Linked DNA regions of Homo sapiens. The protein of the gene in region 4 purifies or fractionates together with the protein of the main gene of each other region. This does not show direct contact. Each region holds a gene or a part of one and is shown on either strand. Other genes may lie near its edges.

The links.
Region 1: the proteins of LYAR (region 4) and KPNA6 purify together in Homo sapiens (co-immunoprecipitation; 2 studies listed by BioGRID and IntAct, with this or other methods). This does not show direct contact.
Region 2: the proteins of LYAR (region 4) and RRP1B purify together in Homo sapiens (co-immunoprecipitation; 3 studies listed by IntAct, with this or other methods). This does not show direct contact.
Region 3: the proteins of LYAR (region 4) and GTPBP4 purify together in Homo sapiens (co-immunoprecipitation; 3 studies listed by BioGRID and IntAct, with this or other methods). This does not show direct contact.

Annotation. Positions count from the first base shown.
Region 1 is NC_000001.11:32,153,036-32,160,058, reverse strand, and holds part of KPNA6 (importin subunit alpha-7), read right to left. Parts: intron 5,472-7,023; coding exon 5,338-5,471; intron 3,207-5,337; coding exon 3,114-3,206; intron 2,714-3,113; coding exon 2,614-2,713; intron 1,793-2,613; coding exon 1,698-1,792; intron 660-1,697; coding exon 528-659; intron 1-527. UniProt on the Homo sapiens protein: Functions in nuclear protein import as an adapter protein for nuclear receptor KPNB1. Binds specifically and directly to substrates containing either a simple or bipartite NLS motif.
Region 2 is NC_000021.9:43,683,537-43,690,559, forward strand, and holds part of RRP1B (ribosomal RNA processing protein 1 homolog B), read left to right. Parts: intron 1-1,016; coding exon 1,017-1,114; intron 1,115-2,233; coding exon 2,234-2,253; intron 2,254-3,267; coding exon 3,268-3,399; intron 3,400-3,979; coding exon 3,980-4,704; intron 4,705-6,751; coding exon 6,752-6,904; intron 6,905-7,023. UniProt on the Homo sapiens protein: Positively regulates DNA damage-induced apoptosis by acting as a transcriptional coactivator of proapoptotic target genes of the transcriptional activator E2F1.
Region 3 is NC_000010.11:983,905-991,437, reverse strand, and holds the start of GTPBP4 (GTP-binding protein 4), read right to left. Parts: upstream 3,005-7,533; 5' UTR 2,959-3,004; coding exon 2,911-2,958; exon of another isoform or gene 2,490-2,910; intron 1-2,489. UniProt on the Homo sapiens protein: Involved in the biogenesis of the 60S ribosomal subunit. Acts as a TP53 repressor, preventing TP53 stabilization and cell cycle arrest.
Region 4 is NC_000004.12:4,287,139-4,294,342, forward strand, and holds the start of LYAR (cell growth-regulating nucleolar protein), read right to left. Parts: upstream 3,017-7,204; 5' UTR 2,898-3,016; exon of another isoform or gene 2,465-2,897; intron 1-2,464. UniProt on the Homo sapiens protein: Plays a role in the maintenance of the appropriate processing of 47S/45S pre-rRNA to 32S/30S pre-rRNAs and their subsequent processing to produce 18S and 28S rRNAs. Also acts at the level of transcription regulation.

The DNA.
Region 1 (7,023 bases), on a different chromosome or scaffold from region 4:
CCAAAGTGCTGGGATTATAGGCGTGAGCCACCGCGCCTGGCGAAAGTTGCACTCTTGTAGCTGCCTTGGACCAAGTCTATAAAAGAGCCCACTACCACTCTCCAATTCTATCCAACTAGTAAGAATTCAATGGGAGAAATGGAAGTTGTATCTTTATCTCCATGATTTGTGGGTACTCAGATATGGGTACTGTGGTGTCTTTTTTCCAATGGCACTTCCAACAACAAATGTATAGAGTTTTTTCCACATCAACCACCCATTCTCTGATACCAACCATGTGTCCAACGATTTAATTCAATTCTGACTCTAACACCTAGAGTTAATGCAGAGTCCGCAGGTTAGTCCCACAAGACTGCCCCAACTTGAGATACCAGTTGCAAGTCCCAGGGGCCATCTGTACTTGACACCCCTATCACTCAGGAAATTCCAAGAGTTTTAACACTGTGCCAAGAACCAGGACAAAGACCAAATATATTTTTTATTATACCACAGGTACTATAAAGAATCACACCAAATCTAAGCATTACCTGTTCCTGAACATCCTCAAAGTCTGAATTAAGCAGCTCTATAAAAATGGGGACAGCCCCTGCTTCAATGACAATTTTGGTCTGCTGAGAGGTTCCAGAGGCAATATTCGTTAGAGCCCAGGCAGCTTCAAACTGAAAGTGAGATTAAGCAATGATTGAAAGGTCATTTCAGACTGAGCAGCCATGCCTATCAGCTGGCTCAGAACAGTAAGCCTCCTGCCCATGAATTTAAAAAACCAAAACAAAACCTCACAAAACACAAGCAAGCCTCTTGCCCACGAATTTAAAACACACACACATAAAATACAAGCCTTTCCCCTCCCGTCTTTAGAGAGTGGGAAGATGCAGTGATGTGATATAGATGAGAATAAGACATTGGGCTTCCAGGGTCCCAGGTTTAGTCCTGCACTACCACAACACCCATGCATCCTTTGCCAGGTCACTCTTTTATTTCCTGAGCTTCACTTTCTTCATTTCTGAAATGAGGATTAGAATGAAATGGGTCTCTCAAAGTCCCTTTCAGCTGAGTTCTGGCAAGTTCCAATGGATTGACCCATCACCCATCTCTGAAACAAGAGACCCAGAGAGGCTAAACAATTTGCCTCAGGTCACACAGGTAGTGGACTATAGCCTCTGATTTATAACTGAATGATCAGTCTATCATAGTCTGGTGCCTTTCCTTTGAAATTGTTTTAAGGAAGAGATTCTGGCTGTGAGGGAACTGATGGTTTCTCCTGAATGTTTCCTAACATTACTTTTGAACTTCCTGAGAGATATGTCAATAGAAGTATCCCACTGCAATTTCTTGGAAGTAGGGCTTTCATCTAATAACCCCTTCCCAGTAGTGGGGGACTGGGGGTGGGATGGGGATAAGTAATGGGTACAAAAAAACCCAGAAAGAATTAATAAGACCTACTATTTGGTAACACAATAGGGTGACTATAGTCAATAATAACTACACAATTTAAAATAACTTAAAGTGTATAATTGGATTGTTTGTAACTTAAAGGATAAATGCTTGAGGAAATGGATACCCCATTCTCCATGATTTGCTTATTTCAAATTGCATGCCTGTGTCAAAACATCTCATGTATCCCATAAATATATATACCTACTATGTATCCCCCAAAAATTAAAAGACAAAACAAACCCCTTCCCTTCAGGCCTCACCTGTAATGTACAATTCTCATTCCTCTTCAGAAACTCCACGAACCGATCCACCACTCTTGGAGTGTTGATAACTTCATCTATTGGAGGACTAGGCTCTGGATAAGGGAGAAGGGAAAATAAAAACACAGGAGAAGCTTTTGCTGATCCCTTCATGGGGGTCAGCTTGCAATCCTTCTTAGACACTTCTGACCACCCTTACAAACATTCCCAAACTCCCTTCTGGTAAGGTGGTTTTAACAATATCTACTCGTCTTTGAACTGTATAATACAGCTGGAATGTTAAAGAGTAAAGCCAATCCTAATTTAAGAATGTTCATCTTTGGCTTACTAAATGTAAGCAAAGAAAGGTGTGGGAGAGAGAACCACCTAAGGGATGAACAACCATGGTCTGCACATTTCCCTTTCAAGAAAGACCAGTACTCTCTTCTTGGGAAGACTATTTGATATACTGAAACAAGAGGTATTTTTCCAATCATACATTAAATTTTTTTATTAAGTACCTATGGTGTGCCACACAGTTCTAGGTACAGAGGACACAGGAGGGAACAAAAACAAAAGTCTCTGCCCTCAGAGAGTTTATATCCTAGTGGGAAGAGTCATTTTATTATGTTAGAAGATAAATATAATGGGGGGAGAGGAGGAGAATATGTAGGGCAAGGTAAAAAGATAAAACTGTTGAAGGTGGGATTTAATCATAGGAGTAAGGGAGTTGCTACAAAGATATCTGGGAATAGAGGACATCAGGCAGAGGAAGTATCCAGTGTGAAGGTAGCAATGTGTCTATCTTGTACAAGCAACACCAAGGTCAGTAGGGCTAGAGCAGAATGAGTGAGGGCACGTGTAAGTTGATGACATCAGTGAAGAGAAAAGAGGCTAAATCATATAAGGCCTCTCTGACAAGGGCCAGGCTTTGTACCTTTGGAGAGCAGTTTCCGGAATTTCTGTGTGGTTGCTAACTGCAGGTCAGAATCATCAGAAAAGAGCATCTCCACCATCTCTCTTGTGATCACACTCTCCTAGAACATAAAACAAGTTTAGGACTTTGCAAACCAACATTAGAGCCAGATGTGAGCACATAATACTGCTTGGCATCCTGTTTTCTAAAAAACTGAGGGCAAGAGGATGGCATAATAGGCTCAGGAGAAGGGGTCTGTTTAATCTATAGGTGCTTCAAGTTGGGACATTTGAAAAGTGATTCCTAATTCTGAGGCAACTGATGGCTTCTCTTAAATGTTTCCTCAGATATATCTAACAAAGTTGAATCTTTGTTGACTCCTAAAGCTGACGAAAGGGTCCACAGAGGAAAGAACTTGTCATGGTTACTGGCAAAGCTGGTAGATGATGTGAACGGCCCAATTTCTGTCCTTAGAAGCAGGTGTTTTCCAGGTCAGCCTGAGGCACATGCAGGGGCCTTACCCCAGTGGTAGAGCTCACATAAGAGTCCATGAGAAGACTATCGAACATGGCAGCTTCTTCATTAATCAGCTCCACATTTCTCCGTTTAAAAAGCTGAAAGTAAAGAGACAGTGGTTAAGAGTACTCTCTGAACCAAAGAAAACAAAGAACAATCCAATGTTAAATTATGGCATAACTGACAAGGATATACTAGAGTAGCTGAGAAGTGAGGCCAAGCTTTATACATTAGTCTCCCCTTATTCAGTTTTGCTTTCTATTATTTTAGTTATCCAGTCAACCGTGGTCTGAAAATATTACACAGAAAATTCCAGAAATGAACAATTCATAAGTTTTAAATTGCATGCCATTCTGAGTAGTGTTGAAGTTTCACGCTATCTTGTTCTGTCTGGCCCAGGATGTGAACATCCTTTGTCCAGTGCATCCATTCCATGCTGTATACGCTGCTGCCAGTTAGTCACTTAATAACCAACTTGGTTATCAGGTGGCAATTGCTTGTGTTCAAGTAACCCTTATTTTACTTAGTAATAGCCACAAAGTGCAAGAGTAGTGATGCTGGCAATTCAAATGTGCCAAAGAGAAGCTGTAAAGTGCTTCCTTTAAGTAAAAAGATGAAAACATGAAAAAAAACATAGTATATGTAAGGTTCAGTAATATCTGCAGTTTCAGGCATCCACTGTGGGTCCTGGAATGTATTCCACAAAGAGAAGAGGAGACTATTGATTACTAACATGGAAAAGATATTCAAGGACTTGGAGGCAGAGGCAGCAGTGGGCCAAGATCACGCCACTGTACTCCAACCTGGGCAACAGGGCAAGATCCTGTCTTAAAAAAAAAAAAGAAAAAAAGGAATGATAGTATAGCAAAAGGGTGGGCAAAATCAGGTTAGGTTGGCCAGGCACAGTGGCGCATGCCTGCAATCCCAGCACTCTGGGAGGCCAGGGCAGGTGGATCACTTCAGCTCAGGAGTTCAAGACCAGCCTGGGCAACATGGCAAAACCCTGTCTGTACAAAAAAAAAAAAAAAAAAAAAATCCACAAAAATTAGCCGGGCGTGGTGGTACATGCCTATAGTCCAGCTATGCAGGAGGCTGAGGAAGAAGGATCACTTGAGCCCGGGAGCTTGAGGCTGCAGTGAGCTGAGATCATGTCACTCACTGCACTCACTGCACTCCAGCCTGGGTGACAGAGTGAGACCTTGTCTCAATAAATAAATAAATAAATAAATAAATAAATAAATAAATAATAATAATCAGGTGACTGAATCTGTTGGCGGGGTGGCGTAGGAGTGCAGATGGTGAGGCATTATTATAGTCTCAGGCTGGGCGTGGTGGCTTACGCCTGTAATCCCAGCACTATGGGAGGCTGAGGCGGGCAGATCTGGGCAGATCACAAGGTCAGGAGTTCGAGACCAGTCTGGCCAACATGGTGAAACCCAGTCTCTACCAAAAATATACAAAGTTAATTGGACGTGGTGGTACATGCCCGTAATCCTAGCTACTCGGGAGGCTAAGGCAGGAGAATTGCTTGAACCCAGGAGGCAGAGGTTGCAGTGAGCAGAGATCGTGCCATTGCACTCCAGCCTGGGTGACAGAATCAGACTCCGTCTCAAAAAAAAAAAAAGAAAAAAAAAAGAAAAGAAAAGGTAACAAGGAACTAGAACTAGAATGTTACAGTAAAGACATAAATGATGTCTAAGTTGGTCTAACTTGTGAAAAGGGGATAAGGTCAGTTTTCTCTTTCTCAAAGCTCCCAACATTTATTTACAACAAAGGAAACTGGATGAGTAGCTCACTCAGTAAGTAAGCTACTTTTCTTTTTTTTTTTTTTTTTTTTTTTGAGATGGAGTTTCACTCTTGTTGCCCAGGCTGGAGTGCAATGGCACGAACTCAGCTCCTGCAACCTCCGCCTCCCAGGTTCAAGCAATTCTCCTGCTTCAGCCTCCCAAGTAGCTGAGATTGCAGGCGCATGCCACCACGTCCGGCTAATTTCTGTATTTTTAGTAGAGAAAATGAAGTTTCACCATGTTGGCCAGGCTGGTCTTGAACTCCTGACCTCAGGTGATCTGCCTGCCTTGGCCTCCCAAAGTGCTGGGATTACAGACATGAGCCACCATGCCCACCTAGTAAGCTACTTTTCTACAGGGCAAGTCAGGGTGCATGGTGGAGGCCAACCATAGGGGCTTGTTTCCCAGAATAGTATGTTTGAGAATACTCCCATTAACTCACTTGTTGCTCTCGCTTCTGCTTCCGGAGCTGAATGCCCTCTTCCTCTCTTCTTCGTCTCATTTCTTCAGGGTTTAGAGCATTGTTCTTATAGCTCTTCATTCGATAATTGTCTTTCCCTGGGCTCGCCATGGTCTCTAGAAGAAAAGATACACACTGCCAAAAACTCTTGAGAGGACAGCATTTCCTTTTCACTAGACTTCTATCCCTACCCACCCTTCACCCTCCCCTACTCTGGGGGGAATACAGCTCTCTGGGAGCTCTCAATAGCACCTGACATCTCTACCCACCCCCCAGCCCCAGTATCTTTTAATTACAATAAGCTTGCTAAACAGGTGGTATTAAAGCAATTGGTATAAGCTTAGTAGTTAAAAGTGTGGGCCCTAGAGACAGATTGTCTGGGTTCACATCCTGACCCTTCTACTTGTTAGCTGTGCAACCTTGGACAAGCTCCTGTAACTTTTATTGCTTCAGAATTTAATCTTTAATAAAACAGGAACACATCAGGCACAGTGGCTCCCACCCGTAATCCCAGGGGTCTGCAGACCATACTTTGAGAAATGCTGTTTTTTTTTTTTGAGACAGGGTCTCACTCTGTCACCCAGGCTGGAGTGCAGTGGCACGGTATCGACTCACTGCAACCTCTGCCTCCTGGGCTCACGTGATTCTCCTGCCTCAGCCTTCCGAGTAGCTGGGATTACAGGCGCACACCACCACAACTGGTTAATTTTTATATTTTTAGTAGAGACGGGGTCTCACCATGTTGGCCAGGCTGGTCTCAAACTCCTGACCTCAGGTGATCCACCTGCCTTGGCCTCCCAAAGTGCTGGGACTATAGGCATGAGCAACCACGTCCAGCCAAGAACTGCTGTTCTAAGCAGTGAATTACTCAGTTGTAGGTAAATAAATGTTAACTTGACCAGCTAGTGCCAAAGTTGTCTTCCATAGTACTGCCACTGACAAATATCTTGACCAATACTTTTGACAATCTACTGGGTGTCATAAAGTATTTCACAGAGATGATTATTTGCATATCCCAGATTACTAATGAGGTTAGATTTCATGTTGTTATTAGCTATATGTTTCCCCTTCTGTGAAAAATGTTTGTTTCTGTATTTTTAAATATTTTTCTTCTTTTTTTTTTTTTTTTTTTGAGACAGAGTTTCACTTTTGTTGCCCAGGCTGGAGTGCAATGGCACCATCTTGACTCACTGCAACCTATGCCACCCAGATTCAAATGATTCTCCTGCCTCACCCTCCTGAGTAGCTGGGACTACAGGTGCCTGCCACCACGCCTAATACGGCTAATTTTTGTATTTTTAGTAGAGACGGGGTTTCACCATGTTGGCCAGGCTGATCTCGAACTCCTGACCTCAGGTGAACTGCCTGCCTCGGCCTCCCAAAGTGCTGGGATTACAGGCATGAGCCACTGCGCCTGGCCTGTTCACGTTCTTTTAAATCAGTTATCTGTGACTGTGTACTTTCTTCATCCTTAATATTGTCTTATTTGTGCCCTCTTTTGTTCCTGAGAACCTTTACCAGAGACTTGACTATTTTTATTTTAGTCTTTTGCAAGATCCAAGTTTTAGCTTCATTGAGTCTTCTCTACTATATGATTTCTATCCCCTTTCTACATTTTTTCTAATTTAAGTTGTATATCTAAGTAATTAAATGTTCACACTATACTTT
Region 2 (7,023 bases), on a different chromosome or scaffold from region 4:
GACAAGGAAATGTAAATATGATGGAGTTTTGAAAGAGATAGTAGCACTTATTTTGAATGGCTAAGCTCTCCTCTGTTCTCTACCACAGAGCCAGCTCTAGTGGCACTTTTCAAATAAAAAAAAGTTTGCCAAGTACAGATTGCAAATCTAGATTAAATTTAAAATTTAATTACAAGCTCACGCCTGTAATCCCAGCACTTTGGGAGGCCCAGGCGGGCAGATCACCTGAGGTCAAGAGTTCGAGACCAGCCTGGCCAACACAGTGAAACCCGTCTCTACTAAAAATACAAAAATTAGCCCGACACCGTGGCGCACGCCTGTAATCCCAGCTACTCGGGAGGCTGAGGCAGGAAAATCATTTGAACCCGGGAGGTGGAGGTTGCAGTGAACTGAGATCATGCCACTGCACTCCAGCCTGGGTGACAGACTCTGGCTCAAAAAAAAAAAAAAAAAAGCACACCCAGGTAAATTTTGTTGTGGGTACTCTATCACAATTTTTTTTTTTTAAGAATTGCTTACCCAGCTTTTCCCAAGAATAATTTTTTTTTTTTTTGAGACAGAGTCGCACTCTGTCTCCCAGGCTGGAGTGCGGTGGCTCGATCTCGGCTCACTGCAAGCTCTGCCTCCTGAGTTCACGCCATTCTCCTGCCTCAGCCTCCCGAGTAGCTGGGACTACAGGCGCCCGCCATCACGCCCGGCTAATATTTTGTATTTTTAGTAGAGACGGGGTTTTGCCGTGTTAGCCAGGATGGTCTCGATGTCCTGACCTTGTGATCCACCCGCCTCAGCCTCCCAAAGTGCTGGGATTACAGGCATGAGCCACCGCGCCCGGCCTGAACATGCATTTTTCAAAGGTAGTGCTTGTGCTCCTGGTTGCCAAGTCCCAGCACAAGCTTGTTTAGCCTATCTGTTGCCAAATGCTTCAGTAAGGGTTTCTCTTACTAGCAGATGTAAATGGCCAAGTCAGGCAGTGTTGTTTGGCTGCAGACTTATGTTTAGTTTCTCTTCCTGCCTAGTTTGACTATAAGGCTGTTGCTGATCGACTCCTGGAAATGACCAGCAGGAAGAACACGCCCCACTTCAACAGGAAGCGCCTCTCCAAACTCATCAAGAAGTCAGTAACTGGGGAGAGGGTTCTGACATCATCATTCCTTTAGTTCTCATCTCCTGGTGTGGGACAAGCCATCTGCATGCTTATCTTTTTTCTTTCTTCTTTTTTTGTCCTTTAATGCTTTTGTGTATAGCAATGTAATAGACACATGTAAACTGAAAAGCTTAATGGAAACAGCAGTCCCACCCCTCAGGTTCCATTCTTCCAGTGCAGCCATACTCATCTCTTAGCTGCTTTAGAATGATGTGAAGTCTATTCATGTCTAAAATGAACCAACCAGAAACTGATGTGAATCTGCTATTTAGGTGTCTTCTGCTGGTGTGCTGCTGAGATAGATAGGGTTAATTCTTTACCTCTCCCCTCCCTCCCATATGGCTATGCCAAAAGTGTTAGTTAATTCAGCTGTCAGTGTTGATGTCACTCTGACCATAGTGACATGATGACCTGGAATTCATGGAGGGCCTCGTGTGGCTTGCTGTCATTGGTGACAACAACTGTCTGATCACACTCTAGGAGCCGGGCACTGCTCTGAGCACTTTGTATACATTCAAGTATTCCATGTTAAGCCCCCAGAAAGTAGCTCCTGTAGTTTTGCCCATTTCCCAGCTGGTTCTTAGGGCACAGGATGGTCCTAGCTTGCCTGAGGTCCCTGCCATCCAGTGTCTCCTCCCCCATGCACCTCCCCACACTGCGCTTCGATGCGTCTTGTTTGTTCTAATGCACAAAAATTGTGTGAAGCAAAACATGGCTTCGCCTTTCTCCACTGGAGAATTGAATATGAGAGAGATCTAAGCTATTTCTGCCTTCAGAAACAAAAATTGAATTTCTTAGTTTGATTTGGGTGTGCCAAGATGCATCTTTGGCCCGCCGTGTCCTTGCTGGTATTGATGGTAACCGAGGGCGGCACTGGCCTTGAGCTTTTTGGCTTTTGTATTGCACCACCCTTCCCTCACAGAATTTCCTGTCTAGCCTCCCCTCCTGGAGGAGAACGTGAATTAACAACTATTTAACTATGGCTTGTATTTTAAAAATCAAATACATATGTCTACAGAAGACAGAAGGGATTTCTTTATGAACATTTGTTATTTTTTTATTTTTTATTTTTTATTTTTTTATTTTTAGATTCCAAGACCTTTCTGAAGGTGAGGCGCGCCAAGAATCATCATTCATGGTGTTTTTCGTGAATATGGACCCCACTGGGGGCGTTGATGCCAAACGCTGAGAAACAAGATTGAAAGAACTTTACTGAAAACCTCTGATAAGAAATAATAGTCCCTAGCCCAGGCAAAATAGCAAGGCCACATCTCTACTAAAAATGAAAAAATTAGCCAGGCGTGGTGGCGTGATCCTGTAGTCCCAGTCACTTGGGAGTCTAAGAGGGGAGGATCGCTTGAGCCCAGGAGGTCCAGGATGCAGTAAGTTGTAATCACACCACTGCACTCCAGCCTGGGTGACACAACAAGACCCCAACTTTTAAGAAAGACAGACCAGCCCTTACCTAGTCATACCGCAGTACAGCGTGGGAAGTGATGCAAGCCTAGGGCTCCCTGCAGCCTGCCCACCTTCCTATCCTGGGCTCTCCCTAACCACCAAAGCAAGAGGGCAGACTGCTCTCATGTGTGGGTACTGCGATGTTTTGGTTTGGTTTTTATTATTTTAACTAGATGGATTTTCAATGGCCTAGGAAGGTTTTAATTGGATACTCTATGAAGGTAAAAAATGTAATTTCTCAGGATCCCTTTCATTTGCTCTTATGGTCAATGGTCCCCCCGGGAAAGGCTGATGCTGTAAGCTTTGTTACATTTGGACAAGTCAGTGAAGTTACCCCATACCCGTCATTCACTAGGGACACTTGGAATTGGGAAAGGCACCAGCAAGCTGGTTGGAATGCAGAGACTGCATTAGCCAAGCGTCCGGGGTCCAGCCATGGAGGGTGTCACCGAGGGCTTGTGATCCCTTGCCTTGCCTTGGTTGAGAAATCCACAAAGCTTTTTTAAGTCTGTAATTCCTGTGTCAGCAGCGCTCAGGTTTGGGTGGGAGAAACGGTGAGGAACGATGATGATGAGGCAGAAATTGGGAGGGGTGCTGCTCTTAGGCCCCTGGGGCAGAGTCTTGAGCGCCTGGGGAAGCTAACAGTGTGTCACTCTGGCATCTAGGAAGCAGTATATCTCAACTCAGTTTTGCGGAGGACATTTCTGCTGATGAAGATGACCAAATCCTCAGTCAAGGAAAGCATAAGAAGAAAGGAAATAAACTTTTAGAGAAAACTAACTTGGAAAAGGAGAAAGGTAAGCTGTAAAGCTAAAAAGAAGGGCACGACTCAGCCCTTGGGGAGCGGCATGCACCATGGAGGCCTCGGAGACTTGAGCTCGTGCCGTCATAAAGCATTAGCAGAGCCCAAAGCTTCAGTCTTTAATGGCTGAGAGGTAAAGGCGGTTTTCCAAGTGTTGTGCTGTTTTTGGTGGAGCCGCGTCCCCACCTCACCCCGCTCACGTCCGCCTGCTCTCCAGGGCACCTCTGCAGGGAAGCAGGAGCTGCAGGGAGCACTGGGGGGCGGCTGTTTGATGACCACTCGAGATCTATGGTTTTTACCCTTGAGCCCTAAAATTAGTGGAAATGGGACTATTTCAGTTCCATATGTGTTTATAAACGGACAGAAGGAAGGCTTCCAGTCACAGTTGGGGATGGAGGAAGTGGGACCAGACGACAAAGGTAGTGGGCGCACCAAGTACCTCAAGGGAGACAGGAACTTTCCTCGTGGTAGAATGTCAGGAAATTGCGTCCGCCAGTCATACTGTCTGAGAATCGCCAGCAGGACTCTGGCCCAGCTGGCACTGGGTGCTTGTTGATGGGTTTCTGTCTTTTTAGGAAGCAGAGTCTTTTGTGTAGAGGAAGAGGACAGTGAAAGCAGTCTTCAAAAGAGAAGAAGGAAGAAGAAGAAGAAGCACCACCTGCAGCCTGAAAATCCAGGCCCAGGGGGTGCAGCCCCATCCCTGGAACAGAACCGGGGCAGGGAGCCCGAGGCCTCTGGGCTGAAAGCCCTGAAGGCACGTGTGGCCGAGCCAGGTGCAGAGGCCACGTCCAGCACTGGGGAGGAGAGTGGCTCCGAGCATCCTCCAGCCGTCCCCATGCACAATAAAAGGAAACGGCCACGGAAGAAGAGCCCGAGGGCCCACAGGGAAATGTTGGAATCAGCAGTGTTGCCCCCAGAGGACATGTCTCAGAGTGGCCCGAGTGGCAGTCATCCTCAGGGACCTAGAGGGTCCCCGACAGGTGGAGCCCAACTCCTAAAAAGGAAGCGGAAACTTGGAGTTGTGCCCGTCAATGGCAGTGGCCTGTCCACGCCGGCCTGGCCTCCATTGCAGCAGGAAGGCCCTCCCACAGGCCCCGCAGAGGGGGCGAACAGCCACACCACGCTGCCCCAGCGCAGGAGGCTGCAGAAAAAGAAGGCAGGGCCCGGCAGCCTGGAGCTCTGTGGCCTGCCCAGCCAGAAAACAGCAAGTTTGAAAAAGAGGAAGAAAATGAGAGTGATGTCAAACTTGGTGGAGCACAACGGGGTGCTGGAGTCCGAAGCTGGGCAACCCCAGGCTCTGGTAAGGTGGGAGCACCCACAGGCCAGCTCGCCACAGAGGCACTCACTCGCGTCCATGGGGCTCCACTGCCTCCTGAGAGGAAGGGTGGGGGCTGGCGGCCAGGCCTCTGGACTCAGCAGCAGTTAGAATAGGGTGTGTTCATAACAGCCTTCACTAAGGAGGAAATCACAGGTGACCAGTACTTCGGTCCTCCTCATCGGCCACCTTCACTCCCTTAGGCCACATGCTTGGGTTCGGGAGGGCCCACTCCAAGCTGGGAAAGTTATCCCTTGGGCCAGGCACTCCTGCCCCAGGCGTGTTCAGGCCAGTCTAGGCCTCTGTCAAAGGCAGGTCTGGTTTTCTTCATCAGCGCATGGCCAGTCCAGGCCCCTTTGGCAAAAGAGGAAGCCCAAAATTCTCTTGCTTCACTCACCTTCTTTTCTATATTCTTTTCTTTTCTTAGCTTCCCCCCTACCCCCCAGCTCAAGAAACTTCACTAGCAGGACCACTTATCTTCTTAATGGAAAGACTTTCCTTCCACTTTGATTTCTAGAGCCAGATATAAATGAGGAACCAAGCTGTTGATCTGGTCTTGGGTCTGGCTGTGTCACCCAGGCTGGAGTGCGGTGGCACAATCTCGGCTCACTGCAACCTCCACCTCCCAGGTTCAAGCGATTCTTCTGCCTCTGCCTCCCAAGTAGCTGGAATTACAGATACACATCACCATGCCCAGCTAATTTTTGTTATTTTTGTAGAGACAGAGTTTTGCCTTGTTGCCCAGGCTGGGCTCAAGCAGTCCACCTGCCTCGGCCTCCCAAAGTGCGGGATTACAGGCGAGAGCCCCCGCGCCTGGCCCTGATCCGCTTTTCACACCACCTCTGGGCGCCCTGGGCTTCCAGGCCAGGGCCGGCAAACGTAGTGTCACTGCAACAGAGCCACATCCACTTGTATGTGCAGGTCTGTGGCCACTTTCATGCTGCAGCGGCAGAGGGGAGTGGTAGAGACAGAGACCTGCGGTCTGTAAAGCAGAAAATAACTCTGCCCTTCACAGAGTTTGCGCACCTTGGTCACCTCTTGGTTTGCACACACCGCTTTGCGGAGATTATGACATCTCTTGTTTAAGTGGACATGTGTGGACCTGGTGAAGCGCTGGTTTGGGGCTAAGAGTGTCTGCAAGTGGCTAGTGAGTGAGTTTATGGTCAGGAAAGCCTTACCCAGGGGCAGCAGTGCACTGAGCTGGACGGCAGGAGGCCCATTTCTAGCCTCGAGTCTCTCCTACCTCACAGTGCCGCCATCTCCTCCCTGGACTGCAGCCTGCCCCTCGTACCCTCAGCGCTGCTCCCTCACTAAGAGGGCCAGAGACATTGCCTTTCTTGCTGTCGTCTCAGGCCCCTGGCAGCCTATTGTAAAGAGGATGGGGTGTTGCTCAATAAGTCCCAGGGTCAAGGGAAGCTTTCCCCTGCCATCTGTCATGGCACAGGGAAGGCGCACAGGAGAAGCTCCTCGGGCTTCCCTGCCCTCCAGGCGGCACACTTGAACCTGCCGGAGCCACCCGTGTGTCGGCAGCGGCACTGGGCTGCCCACACCTCTGAGAGCCAAGTACGAGACCCGGTCTCTCTCTGGGTGGCTGTCAGTTGCTGCACACGCAATGAGTGTCCTGGGCCTGCCTGTGAGGGACCCACAGCCCCACATGGGCATCACTGTCCTCCACACCAGACTGCCAGCGCAGTGACGATTCAGCTACAAATGGGAGAGTCGATCTTATTAACAGATCGGCTTTGAAAGGCCAAAATCCCCATTTTGAAGATGAAGATAAAAGTGGGTCCTTACTCTGACGAGGCGTTTTCATCGCCCCTCTTGGCATGGTGCCATGATAGCGGTCGTGTTGTGCGTGAAGCCTGAGCTCTGCCGAATGGAAGGGCTGTCTGCAAGTGCGGTGCGGAAGACCGCGGGCCGTCGGGTGGGCTGGATCTGCCTGGGGCTCTGCCTTCCCCTCCTGTGTGTGTGGGCAGCACAGGAGGCTCTGTCGTCTGACCCCTCCTCCGCTTCTCACCCCTCGCTCACGTAGGGAAGCAGTGGGACTTGCAGTTCCCTGAAGAAGCAGAAGCTGAGGGCAGAGAGCGACTTTGTGAAGTTTGACACCCCCTTCTTACCAAAGCCCCTGTTCTTCAGAAGAGCCAAGAGCAGCACTGCCACCCACCCTCCAGGCCCTGCCGTCCAGGTACGCACCCTCCCCAGAGTGGCACAGCACATTTCACCACAAGGGCACAGATGGGCTTGAGCTGACAGTGCTTCCCATGCCGGGCCTGGAGCCCCACTGTGGCCCTCTGAGCCTGTCCA
Region 3 (7,533 bases), on a different chromosome or scaffold from region 4:
AGTTACCCAGTGCAAAGAGTCAGCACTTCTCTTTAATAAGGATCCGATCCCCAGGATTCCTAAATCCAATGTATCTAGCCACACAATATTACTTGACCTTTTTTCTTGAACACTTTGATTAATTCAACAATTTGATTAACTCAATATTATTTCATACAAAGGTTGTTAGGGATACTTGGGTGCTGAGGATAATGAACAAGATACTGTCCCTTCCTTCACGGAATTCAGGGTCCAGTGACAGAAGTAAACAGGTGGGCACAACACAGTCTGCCAAGTATTGTACTATGAGGGGCACGCCCAGTCTCCCCTCTGGGCCTACAAGTGAGACAAGTAAATGGGTGGTCACAACAGTCTGCCAAGTACTATAAGGGGCACACACTGTCTCCCCTCTGGGCCTACAAGTGAGACAAGTAAACGGGTGGTCACAACAGTCTGCCAAGTACTATGAGGGGCACACACGGTCTCCCCTCTGGGCCCACACAAGATCTTCTCTACGTTCTTCTGCACCTAATGCCGTTCGCACATCCTGAAGGGGGACCAAGTCAAAGGTTACCTACTTCATAAGGTTCCCCCTGACTCTCCAACTTACCACAGCTAACCACACTCTTCTCCTCTCCCAATCCATGTGTGTCCTCCATGATAACAATGTTTTATTTCTAGTATGGTCATACGAGATATGACTTACCCCACTTTTTTTTTTTTTTTTTTTTGAGATGGAGTCTTGCTCTGTTGCCCAGGCTGGAGTGCAGTGGCGCGATCTCGGTTCACTGCAAGCTCTGCCTCCTGGGTTCAGTTCACACCATTCTCCTGCCTCAGCCTCCCCAGCAGCTGGGACTACAGGCGCCCGCCACCACGCCTGGCTAATTTTTCTGTATTTTTAGTAGAGACGGGGTTTCACCGTGTTAGCCAGGATGGTCTCGATCTCCTGACCTCGTGATTTGCCCGCCTCAGCCTCCCAAAGTGCTGGGATTACAGGCGAGAGCCACCGCACCCGGCCTCGACTTACCTCTCTTGAAAATGACTTCCAAAGAGGCAGGTATTTTATCTAATGCATTTTTGTAACACAGTACCCGATGCACAGGACAGGCACTCACTCAACATCTTCTAGAATGAACTGAATACCACACTTTCCCGATGTGATTTTTTTTTTTTACTTCCAATCACCAAACAATTACCATCACCCAGTTTTTAGATAAGTCATCTGTTCTCTAAAAATATAAATCTCACTCCACAGAACAGAAGACGGATGGTGTATAATATATTCTAAAGTTCTCCACATAAGTCAATAACATGAACAAAGTTCATATAATCCAAAGAGCAAATTCCTTCAACAAACCTGAGAGATGGTTGACCAAAAATACAAATAAGACATGACTCCTGCACTCGAAAATACTACAATCTGGCTGGGCACAGTAGCTCATGCCTGTAATCCTAACACTTTGGGAGGCTGAGGCAAGTGAATCACTTGAGATTAGGAGTTCAAGACCAGTCTGGCCAACATGGTGAAACTCCACTTCTACTGAAAATACAAAAATTAGCCAGGCCTGGTGGCGCATGCCTGTAGTCCCAGCTACTCGGGAGGCTGAGGCAGGAAAATCACTTGAACCTGGGAGGCGGTGGCTGCAGTCAGGATCACACCACTGCGCTCCAACCTGGCCAACAGAGCGAGACTCCATCTCAAAAAGAAAGAAAGAAAATACTACAATCGATCAAGAGATGTGCCAGAACAACTGTCAGGAAGAAATAAGAAATGGTGGAGAGAAGTGGGGAAACAACTTTTGCTATGAAGGTAAAATACGAGACTCCCACAAAGCTTTCCAAGGCAAGCTCATCCCGTCCTTGAGACCTGAAGAAAAGGAGGCACTGACGAGGGGAAAACAGTCACTCTGCAGGGACTTCAGTAACTCCCTCTCGTGCAGGAGTCCCTGGGAGGCTCCAGTTGCCCGTCAATGTCTGTGTAATTGCGACCCAAATCGAATGTTCACTACATAAAAACGTGACTTCTTAAAAGTCCTAATACTAGGGCCGGGCGCAGTGGCTCACGCCTGTAATTCCAGCACTTTGGGAGGCCGGGGCGGGAGGATCACCCGGGATCAGGAGTTCGAGGCCAGCTTGGCCAACGTGGTGAAACCCCGTCTCTACTAAAAATACGAAAATTAGCTGGGTGTGGTGGTGCACGACTGTAATCCCTGTTACTCGGGAGGCTGAAGCAGGAGAATCGCTTGAACGCGGGAGGTGGAGGTTGCAGTGAGCCGAGACTGCGCTCCAGCCTGGGAAACAAGAGCGAAAAACTATGTCTCAAAAAAAAAAAAAAAAAAAAAAAGTCCTAATACTCAACACTTGTTGACTCATTCTTGCCACACCAACCAACGCTGTAAAAATTTAGTCTGGGCCTACTATGGTCTGAAAAGGAACAGGTATTCCCAAATCTAACAGTGAAAGAGAATGACTTAAAAATTATGAAACGTTAAATCACGAGAACAACGAACCCAGGATTCCTGAGAGGGGAGGGGGCTACGCCAAACCCAGAATCCGAAGGCTCATCACGGACCACGGAACGCTTCCTCCCTCACATGTCGGGGTCCCCCTCCACTCGCCCACATCGTCACCCGGGGCCCCTCCAGGGAACCCAACTCTGGGTGTACCCCCATCTCTGGGGGCCCTCAGTCTTTGGGTGGACCACGGTCTTAGGTGGACCCCGGTCTCTGGGGGATCCGATCTCTGGTGGACCCCGGATTCTGCTGGGGGAGGGGAAATGATCCCGAGTACGCGGCCAGACGGTCAGGCCCAGGAGCGGGGGATGGGCGAGCGGAAGGCGACCGCTCTCCCACGGCTACAGGCCCGGACCCTCCCCGGGGACCCAGCTGAGGAGAACGCGAAAGTTGCAGTGGCCCTCCCGGGGCCGCCTACCTTGGCGGACGGCACCACCGTAATTTTCTTGAAGTTGTAATGTGCCATGCCGGCAGCCGTATGCACGCGGGTACTTGGCACTCCCGGAACTTCCGCCGTCGGGCGCAGGTGGGACTTCCACTGTCGGGCGGTTGAGGTACGTCACTTCCGGGAGCTCAGCCAATCGTGTTCTGCGTGCTCTACGGCGCTTTCCGCGTCGCACAGCGCACCCGCCCGGCTTGGAGGTCAGCCACGGAGGGCGTGTGAGGGCCTCAGGAGCGAGGGTACAGAGGAGAGGACGCCCGGGTTTTAGGGGGAGCGCGGAGACTAAATTCCTGCTGAGTAAAGCGGGGGTTTCCGACAGACTGCCCTGCGGGTTTCTGGAGCGGGTTCAGGCCCCCAGCCACGCGCCCTGGGCCAGGGTTGGAGGGTCCGGGGTCTTGGGATTTGGGAGTTGCGGGGCTTAGGAGTCCAGAGGGTCTAGGGGATCCGGGAGTCTGGGGGTCCTGGGTCGCGGCGAGCCCCGCAAAGGAGGAGGAAGCCGCGCGTGCGGGGCGTGCCCAGCCTCTGGGTGTGGAGCAGATGACGCCCCTACCCCGGCCTCGCGCGTGGGACTTGATCCCGGGCCGTGGTGAGGAGGCCCTCGCGGCTTCCCTGCAGCCCTGCTTTCTCGTGCTTGTTAAATCCCAAAACGGGCGGAGAAGGGAAAGCCTGATCTAAGGCAAAAGAGGTGCAGCTGGTTCCGCGCAGTGCCTTAGGAGAGCCCAGGGAACAGTTGCGAGAGACAGTCCTGTGGGGTCCAACTGAGGAGAAGGTTGATGAGGATGGAGCCTTTACTGCTTTTATGTTTGTGAATAGAGTGGCCGCTCCCTTTGGGAACCCAGGGCCACATCCCTTAAATTAAACGTTAGGTAGGGCTGACTCAGTCAAGCAGTGTTCAGAGCTGCTGACTATATATTAACTCGTTTAATTTCTGCAACAGCCTCATGAAGTGCATGGGGAAACAAAGGCACACAAGGCTCGAAAGCACCCCGTGGTTGTGCAGCTGACAAGCTAACAGGCAGCAGAGGTGGGCTTTGAACCCAGGCAGCCTGGCTCCAGCAAACCTGCTTCTAACCATTAGCTATACTGCTTCTCACGCATCTGGGATGCCCCCCACTCTCCAATCCTTTTAAACAAGTCCTATTATTCTTACGCGAAAATACCTCTCATAAATTCCCAGCATTCCAATATTGAAAATCATTCTGGGTCATGCTTTTCTCATCTATTAACTATGCTTCCATTTTTGTGTCACAAGGCGGATAAGCATACCTCCTACATCTTTGTGGCACTTCTAAAGGAAGCTTCTAGGGTAATTAGGATTTGCTGGCTATGATCATTTGCTAAACCACAGGACAGTTCTGGCCACCATTTCCGAGATTAGCAAAGCTATGCTCATACTTATTGCCCTTTCTTTTAGGTTCTTGTATGTTTCCTCAACCTCTCCCACTTTCTCTCACTCTGATATAGCCAGTTCCTCTTTTTCTTGTAATCCGGTATTTAGATAAGTCCAGTCAATACTTTGCTTCAGATGGGCAAACATCCTTTCTTTAATTTTTTTTTTTTTTTTGAGACGGAATCTCACTCTGTCGCGCAGGCTGGAGCGCAGTGGCGCCATCTCAGCTCACTGCAACCTCCGCCTCCAGGGTTCAAGCCATTCTCCTGCCTCAGCCTCCCAAGTAGCTGGGATTACAGGCACCTGCCACCACTCCCGGCTAATATTTTGTATTTTTAGTAGAGACAGGGTTTTACCATATTAGCCAGGCTGGTCTCAAACCCTGACCTCAAGTGATCCACCCACCTTGGCCTCCCAAAGTGCAGAGATTACAGGCATGAGCCACCTGCTTTTAACTTGTTCAGCTACAAAGGCATGTCTGTGAATGCACAACCATAATGACTCATCATGGGCCCAGAGCTATAACAATGATAAGGTACCAAGCATCTTACACCATGTGCGTGTTGATGAGAATCAACATCCTTGCCTGTTCTTGTGATTTTGTGGCAGAGTATAGCTTCTTGGGGGCAAGTATGTATTCTACACCACTAGGAGCAAGCTTCTTTATCATACACTTCTGGGCTTCTCTGGGGAAGCCAAACTCTAAAGGCCTTTTCTGAGGAGTGTCGCAAATGCTGCCTGCAGTACGAGGCACATTGCCAGTTCCTGACTGCATTAGCAGGTTCCAGCTGCCAGGACGCCTCTGAGTGTGTACCTTGTGACAGAAAGGTACTTCTCAGCTGTAGTAAAGGATGCTCTCAAGGGTACTCTGCAAAGCTTCTGACTGCGAGGCACTTCTCAGTAAAAAGCTTTGTTTTTCAGACCTTTTTATTTTGTGGGTTTGGTCTTTTCTGTTTTACCTTCTCGTTGCTGTAATTCTGATGGATGAAAGGTACATTTTGCAGAACTGAACTTCCTGCCTGAAAGGAGCCTTTACATGGGGATTAGCCATCAGTAGGCATCCGGTCTTAGAGGGTCCTATGAGTGCTCCATTGGGCCCGTCGGCCACTTCCCTGGATCCCCACAGGAACTCATTCAGAACGAGTCACATGCTGCTTTGTACCTAGATGCTTCCTTGTGTACATCTTGTTTCCAAAAGAAGTAGCCAGCTCTTCGTGGACAGGAACTGTGTCTTACTTTTTTGCCATCCCTCACCTCAGGCAGCACTGCCAAGAGCATTCACAGTGACTGTGGAACTCCGTTGATTGAATGTTGGCTTGAGTAAGTTCCTGATGTAGGGGCTGTAGCGGTTGGAATCAAGCTTCTGCAATACTCAAGTAGTCCTACTGAATTACAGTACTGTCAGACCCCCTCTGCACAACCCTGAAGTGGGTCAGAACTCCACACTGTGCCATAAAGAGGAAAGCTGTCAACAGGGAGGTCTAAGGAAACACCTCCTTAGGTGGAAGGCAGCAATGGCATGAGAGCCACCCTCCGGGCCAAAGGTGCAGCCTGACATTCTCTGCAGAATTACACAGTGAGTTAAGACTGTGAGCTTCATTTCTGAGATACAGCTCCACCCGCTGTGATCCTGGGAAAATGTCTCAGCTTCCCCAAGCCTCTGTTTCTTCACTCTTTGCTCACTTACTATCTACCAGGCATGTTAAAAATACTTTATGTGAATTATTTTAGCTTTTCACTAACCCTATTCTACAGGCATTAATAAGTGAGCAAAGAGATTGTGTATTATTAATTATGCATTATGTATTATCTATGTTCTTATTAGCTGCTTAGTTACAATAATATTTGCTAAACTTTTGTTCTATTCATTAAATTATCGTTGAACCTTAACAACTGCAATGCAGGGAGCCTCCACCATGTGCCAGGTCACTTGCTTTCTTCTCGGGACAGCATAGTGAGGTGGGTGTGATTGTCTCTGTTTCACAGACAAGAGTGCTGGCTTTGAGGTGGTTGAGTGCTTGCTCACCGTCACACAGCTGGAGAGACACAATGAGGTGCGTTCAGGGCGCATGGAACTCCAAAGCCACTCTCCTTTTGCACTGCCAGCCGAGAGTGGCTTTGTTCTTGACCTCTGTAGAGTTATTACCTTGTTTGGTATTTGTTTGTTTGTTTATTTATTTATGAGACAGGGTCTCACTCTGTCGCCTAGGCTGGAGTGCAATGGTGTGATCTTGGCTCACTGCAACCTCCACCTCCCAGGTTTAAGCAATTCTCAGATTTAAGTGCCTCAGCCTCCCGAGTAGCTGGGACTACAGGTACATGCCACCACACCTGGCTACTTTTTGTATTTTTTAGTAGAGGGGAGATTTCGCCATGTTGTCCAGGCTGGTCATGAATTGTTTGGTATTTAAATGGAGGTACATGATGGATTGCACTTGGGGTCATATGCTGTCAATAATCCCCCAGCACCTGTGTTTCACTAAAGCACTGTTTGCATATGCAGACAGGTTGTGTTTCTTCTGTGAGAATTCCGTTCCTGTGCGTGGATCATGACAGGCACCTGTGCTAATGAACTTCTGCCCTTGCTCACGTCAGAGCTGCTGATAAGGGGTGTTTCTATGGGTTGAGTACGAGTCATTCTATTGACACACTGTTAAAAACATTCTTTGCATTCTGCTGTTCCATAAAGGAACAATTTTAGGTTTAATGGAAATCTTGCGATCTCTTTTCCTAGAGAAGATTTGTGATAATAATCATACACGTATTTGGAATGCATGTACTTATGCTTGTATGATCAATTTCCAAATGATTCTAAATATCTGCAGGCAGAATTTCTTAAGATTAGCATTCTGTGCTGTACCCAAAAAGATACTCGAGATAAGCAAAGACAAGTTTCATGTTGCAACAGACATCTGAATCCTTAGTGTTTCTGGAAGCTGGTTAAGCAGGTGGTTGTGATGTCTGACCCTCAGGTTAAAAACAGTGAAAAAAATTCACTTTGATGATGTGACGTCATTGTCACAAGTTTAATAATTGATTTTGAAGGTCTGCACAAGGAAACCATAATGCTTTAGCAATTTCCGTTTTCCAGAGGGAGGAGGCTTAAAATTTCAATTCCAGCCCTGCCACCAACTTCTAGACTAATAGTAAGCTAAGTGCCTTTCCTGCTATTATTTTTAATTAAAAACATATTATTTCCTCACAAAAGC
Region 4 (7,204 bases):
CCTCTTTTCCTTCCCTGGCTCCCCAACTCCCTCTGCCCAATGTCCAGTCCCAGCGCAGCCAGAGAGATTCTACATGCTTTCCTTCTGGCCACATGCGCATGTTAAAAGAGAAAGGCAGGCAGAAGGCAGTGTTCTTGGACTGGTTGAGAGCATACTTCGGTTCTTGCTCAGTCACTTTAACTCAATTCGGCAGACATTTCCTGAATGCTGACACTATCCTATCCACCCAGATACACCTGGGGCCCTCACGCAGGTCCTCTGCGTGTGCTCCTGGCTGCGTCTTCGTCTGTCTGTATGGTCAGTTTACTGAGCTCTCATCACATGCCATACCCATGAAAAAGATGACGGGGTCTGCACCATAGAACACATGATCATTAGCTCTCTACAAAGCCGTGTCCCATTTATGAACACAACTGCCCCCAATACCACTAAGACTGCTATGATCATACTACCTCCATCTGGAGAGAAAACCTAAGGCTCAGGAGGGTAAGTGAACTGCCCGAAGTCACAGTAAGTGGCAGAGGTGGCCTGAAAGACCAGGCAGCAAGCCCAGGCTCCCACCCTGCCTCCATCTTGACCTGCCATGTCCTAGCCGTTTGCTTGGTGGTTACTCAGCACCTGGGACCTTGAGGTCCTCATCCAAAGAGAAAAAAAATTAAGGTCTCTATAAGATGACTTTCCATGTATAAATATTAGAACCCTAAGTCTTAATTATAAAACCTCTGTGCAGTGGGCAAGGAGACCACCCATGTCACAGGAGAGGCTGTCAGGGTCTGGACAGCAAAGCTAGCTGAGGGGCAGCAGCCAGTGGTCACTAAGGGGCTGGGAACTTGTTAGTCTTCTCTTAACAAGATGGTTGCCAGCTTTTGTTGGACAGGGCCCTGACTCAGGTGTAGAGGATCTGAGCTGGAGCCTACATCTGCTAATGTCAAAAAAGTCATTAAAAACTAAATGACCTCAAAGCACCTTAACTTCCCAGAATCTGTTTATCTGTAAAATGGATCTAATACCTAACTCAAAGCATTGGGTGGAAAGTTAAATAAGACACCAGATATGAAAGCTTCATCCCTGCCCAATTGTAGAAAGGTTTCTCTGTGACCTACTAATTTGCACATCAATGCTATTATACCCAGCCCCCTCCTAAACCCATGCTCCTTTAAATATGACCATCAACCCACCCATTTATGTTCATAAATTCACTCCAACCTTCTCTGGCTCCTCACCCCATGGCTGCCTACTTTACCAAGTTCCCTGATAACATGCCCTTAGGTTTGGTTCTGAGATTGGAATGATTTTTTTTAAATCTTCTTCCCTCTATATTTTTGTATTACTTATTCAATTTTTTTTCTTTTTTTTTTTTTTTTTGAGACGGAGTCTCATTCTGTTGCCCAGGCTGGAGTACAATGGCGCAATCTCGGCTCACTGCAGCCTTTGCCTCCCAGGTTCAAGTGATTCTCCGGCCTCAGCCTCCCCAGTAGCTGGGATTACAGGCACATGCCACCATGCCCGGCTAATTTTTGTATTTTTAGTAGAGACGGAGTTTCACCATGTTGGCCAGGCTGGTTGTGAACTCTTGACCTCAGGTGATCCACCCTCCTCGGCCTCCCAAAGTGCTCGGATGACAGGCACGGGCCACTGCGCTTGGCCTTGACTATTCTTAAAATATTCTTGCATGCACATGCAGACACTGACCTACACATCATTACCACCACTACCACTCAAACAGCCCACCTGAGGGGCCTAGCTGGCAACCCCAGGATATCCCCCACTGAACACTGTGACCCTGAGCATGCCACTGCCTCTATAAACTTCAAGTTATCTCATCTGTGAAACAAGAAGTCAGGCCAACTTGACAAGACTCAAGCCCCTTCCACGGGTAGCATTCTGAGAAACCATGGGTATGGTGCAAGAGAAGGACAGACAAACATACTCTGTCCACCATCCTGCCTAAACCTTTGTGTATGAGGCTGACAAGGGTTACAATGGGTGACATTCACAAGGAGAGAATCTCTCCCTTGTTCCTTGCAAAAGCCCTGGGAAGTAGGTGCACCTATCTCCACTAAACAGATGAGCAAACTGAGGCACAGAAGCCATTTCTCTCTGCCTCCTACCCCACCCACGGCATCACCAGCACTGTTTTAAACACCATCCCTTCACTCGAGTAACTACCATGTGTCAGGCACTATGCTAGACCCTGGGAGCCTCGGGCACAGTGTGAGTAAGTCCCAAGTGGGCCCTCTCTGCTAGAAATCAGGGTTGCAAATACAGACCCCACCTCATCCTCCTCCCTCTCTCCTCAGAGGTAGGTGCTTCAGAGAATCCTAACATTCATGGAGCACCCAAGCCCTCTCATAGGAGGTTAACACATTTCTACTCATGTAATCCTCATCACAGTTCTCCGAGTTAGATTCTATATGTTATGACAGATGAGGAAAGTGAGGCGCAAAGAGGTTAAAAAACTTACACCAGGTCATCCCACATCCAGGTAGTGGCAACCCAGATTCACACGCAGTAGTTATTCTGATCCTAAGTATGTGCTCTGGACCGCTACATCCTAAGGCCTCCTCTTTAGGGACTGATCTCCCAAGGCTCAGAGAAGAGCCCTGTCTCCAACATGCAGCAAGCCTGAAGCCCAGTCGGGCGGTGACCAATCGTCCTGGTTTGGCCAGGCCCGAGGGAGTTCCCAGGACGCCGGACCTTAAGTTTTAAAACTAAAACGAGTTGGTCACCCTAAGTCCAGGACTCCTGCCACTTCCCCAGAGCAGGAGTGAGATCTGAATGGAACTCCTTCCTCCATGCGTAACCCAGAGGGGCTGACGGTGGAAATCCCGTCCCTCCCCTACTCACTCTCTGAGCCCCAGCCTCCCAGGTCGGACCTCTGGGCCACCACCCCTCACCTCTCAGCCAGCGCCCGCCAACGGTTTCAACCGGCCGCGGGGAGCACGTGGACTCGCCGCCGCCAGCCCAGCGCCGCAGCTACCTGCCTCTCAGGCTTCGCGGTGCAGAATTCGCTTCTGAACCACCCAGCGCGCCTGCGCACCGCGGCCACGCCCCCCCCAGTGGAAGTGACGCCAACGGAAGCAGGAAGGCGGTTCCGGCAAGCCAAGGGGGCGTTGTCGTGATGATTCCGCGGCCAGCGGATCGCTGCGAGTGGCCTTGAAGGCAGCTGCTGCAGGTGAAGAGTAGGCGGCGGGGCAGAGAGCGGCCTCCGAGGGTAAGGTGGCCGGCCTTGCGAAGGCGTGCGGGGCTGGCGCTGGTGGGAATGGCCCGGAAGGGAAGGGAGGCCGGGCGCCCGAAGGTGGCCCAGAAGGGCATGGACCCACCGCTCCTTCCCGTCTCTGGGCACTCGAGGATACCCGGGGGGTTGGCGGCTCCTGCGAGAGTCAGCGAGCATTTGCTCTGTGCCGGGCATCACAGGGGACGCGGACTGAGACCCAGACGGCCAGGTTCCGGGCCTGGGAGCCGGGCCTTCTCCCTGGTGCAGCTTCCTCGGCCTGGAAACCCCACCCGCGCCCTCTCATCTCCAGGCTTTGCCCGCTGGAAGCCAGCCCGGCCCGCCTCCGCTACGCGCTGCCCATCTCTCGGCTTCTGTTTCCTTCCACGCTGTAGTTGAGAGTAGCGCTTAAGACGACAGAGCCCACAGCCTAGCTCAGTTTCATTACGGTGTGGCCTCTTTGTGCCTCAGCCCCGCATCTGTAAAGCGAATGTCATAGCGGCACCTGCGTCCCTGGAACCTTGTCGTATTTCATGAGTTGGTGCATGTAAATCGCTTAGACTAGTGGCTGCCACTTAGTAAGTACTCAATAAACGTTAGCTCTTCTCAGCCCTTAAAACAGGGTCTGGCACACAGTGGTGGTCACTAGGTGTTTGTTGCTTAAATGAATGAATGAAAGTTGAGTGGAGGATGCACAGAGTATTGTGAGAAACCTTCACTCCCAAGGTGTGTGTATATGGGTGATAAGGTTTCACTCTGAAAGTGAGCAGTGTTGGGCCTGGAATAGAAGGTGTATTAGTTTGCTAGGACTGCAAACAAAATACTGGGTGGCTTAAACAACAGAAATTTATTATTTTCTCACAGTTCTGGAGGTTAGAAGTCCAAGATCAAGGTGTCTTCAGGTTTGGTTTCTTCTGAGACATTTCTCCTTGGCTTGCACGTGGCTGCTTTCTTGCTGTGTCCTCGCATGGTCTTTCCTCTGTGTTTTCACATCTCTGGCGTCTCTCTTTGCATCCAGATTTCCTCTTTATGAGAACGTCAGTCAGGTTGTATTAGGGCCCACCTTAATGGCCTCATTTTAACTTAATTACCTTCTTACAAGCCTGATCTCCAAATACAATCACATTCTGGAGTGCTGGGGGAACAGTTTAACCATAACAGAAGGAATTCACAGAAATGGACAAGGAGGGAAATACTTTCCAACAGAAGTGACAGAATGGCCAGGAGGCTTAAAAGCAGGGTGCTCAAGATGTTTTTTGTGTTCAGGGCACATATGTGTACTTCAGTCTTGTTTGTGCTCTCGTACTGTTTTTGGGTTTGGTTGTTGTTGTTTGTTTGTTTGTCCTCCTGAATACTCAAAGAAAGTGAGCCCTCTCATTTTTTTAGTCTGGCAAACTTAACTCACATTTCAGCATAGATGTGTCTTCCAGGAAGTTTTCCCTGACCCTCCCTCCCAAATTAATTTCTGCTTCCTCCATTTAATAACTTTGGTACAGGGCTGGGTGCGGTGGCTCACGCCTGTAATCCCAGCGCTTTGGGAGGCCGAGGCAGGCAGCTCCTGAGGTCAAGAGATAGAGACCAGCCTGGCCAACATGGTGAAACCCTGTAAACCCCATCTCTACTAAGAGTACCAAAATTAGGCGGGTGTGGTGGCGCATGCCTGTAATCCCAGCACTTTGGGAGGCTGAGGCGAGTGGATCATTTGAGGTCAGGAGTTTGACACCAGCCTGGCCAACATGGTGAGACCCCCACCCCTCGTCCTTACTAAAAATACAAAAATTAGCTGGGTGTGGTGGTGCATGCCTGTAATCCCAGCTACTCGGGAGGCTGAGGCAGAAGAATCGCTTGAACCCAGGAGGTGGAGGTTGCACTGAGCCGAAAGCACACCACTCCACTCCAGCCTGGTCAACTGAGCAAGACTGCGTCTCGGAAAAAAATAAAAAATAACTCTGGTACAGTGCAACGATACTTGTTTTTCCCACTAGACTGATGCTTCATGAAGACATGGATGACCGTATCTGATGTGTTTGCCATCGTACCTTCAGTGCCTAGCGCATAATGGGCATTGTGTAAAGTTAAGTGAATGATGGAAAACTGAGACACAGAGCCTGTGAAGAGTAGGGAACACATCTGTTCCGTTTGTCAGCATTCCATCCTCGCGACAATCTGTTGCACATGTTAGGCACACAGTATCTGTTTAACCCAATTGGCCTTCCCAGTATGATAAGAGTCAGCATAAAGCTAAGACAAGATTCCAGGTTTGTTGCTTCAAGCCAGTGCTTTTATGAGTAGGGTGGAGGTGAGGAGCTACAAGTAAGCCATTTGGAAAGTATGATGATGGGCAGACTCCTTAGGAGCCCTCTGAGGTAAGCTTGACTTTAAGGTGCGTGAACTGTGGGCCCTTGGAGAAGTAATCTATTAATGGCACTGCTGAAAAAACATCCACAAATTCTATCCAGTAGTATTTGACCTGTTGGTAGAATTGAGGGGCCTTTGCTCTAGGAGTCCTCTCTGCAGGTTGAAATTCCATTCTGGCTGTTGTTTTCTTTAGAAGCATTTCTTCATTCACATTGATCTAAACTTTTTCTTGTTTCTTTTCCCCCCATATTTTCATTTTTTGACGCCATTCATACCATCTTTCCACCATCACATTCCTTGTATAGATTTGTAGCTTTTAGAACTAGGAAAAAACCTCTAAAAGAGATCATCTAGTCCAATAGGGGACCTCTCCATTTTTATAGATGAAAAACTGAGGCCCAGAGTCTCATCCATCCAGAAATATGTATTGAGTGCCTATTATGTCAAAGACACTCTGCTAGGCACCAGAGATACATTGTTCAATAAGACAGATGGAGTCCATGTCTTCACCACAGAAAATTTTTACTGCTTGTCACTAGGTGAGTTAGTCGCAAAGATGGAAGAGAACCTTCTGCTCCTTCTCTCACGCTATAACACCTTGTGTAGCACATCTTAGTCCTGAATTGTGCAGTTCCTTAATGCAAAGCTTGTCTGTGGGATTACCTGGACAATCAGGCATAGGCAGTAGACTGAAGAGGCAGCTGATTCCGATCAAAGGAAACAGTGGTTATGAATGCGGCTTTGGTGTCAGATTCCCTGGCTCTGAATCCCACCTCTGTCCCTTATTACTTACCTATTTTTAGCTGTGTGACCATCTTCTCTGTATATGGTCAGGTTTTCTGTTGCTGTGTAACACTCTACCCCCAAATTTAGTGACTCAAAAACTATTTTATCTCATAATTCTGCAGGTTAGGTATTCAGGCAGGTGTCAGCTGAGAAATTCTTCAATTCTATGTGGTGTCAACTGGGATCACTCAGTGGCATTCAGTTGGAGGAGGGGCCAGCCTGGAGAGGTCAGGATGGCTTTCCTGGGAGCCAGCTGAACCCTTCTCTGTCTCCATGTGTTCTCTCTAGCTGGGCATCTTACAGGTGGCTCAGGCCTTCCATAGCCACTGTTCTGAAAGATGGGAAGTGGAAGCTGTTAGCTCTTTAAAGGCCTGGGCCTGGGAAATGAGCACAGCTTTGTAGCACAGAATCTGATTAAGGCAGAGCCTGTGCAGGAGGGAAGGAGACCTAGACTCCACTACCCCATGGGAGAATCATCGGAGAATTTGTGGCCATCTTAAATCTGACAAATTCCTCATTGTCCTCACCTGTAAAATGTGGATAATAGTAGCACCTATCTTATGGTAAATGAGTTAATAAGTGTAAAGGGCTTAGAATAGTGCCTGGCATCTAGGAAACATAAGTATTTGTCATAATCATTACTATTATTAGGTATAAGATACATTTTTGTTTATAATTGACAGAACACATAAGAAATGTAAGATACAATTTTTTTTCCAGACCTTTTTATAACCTCATTGGGGTTTCCAGACCTTTTAATAACCTTATTGGGGTTTCCAGACCTTTTTATAACCTTACTGGGGAGGTACAGGATTGACATCATGAAGTAATTTAGAGAACTATACA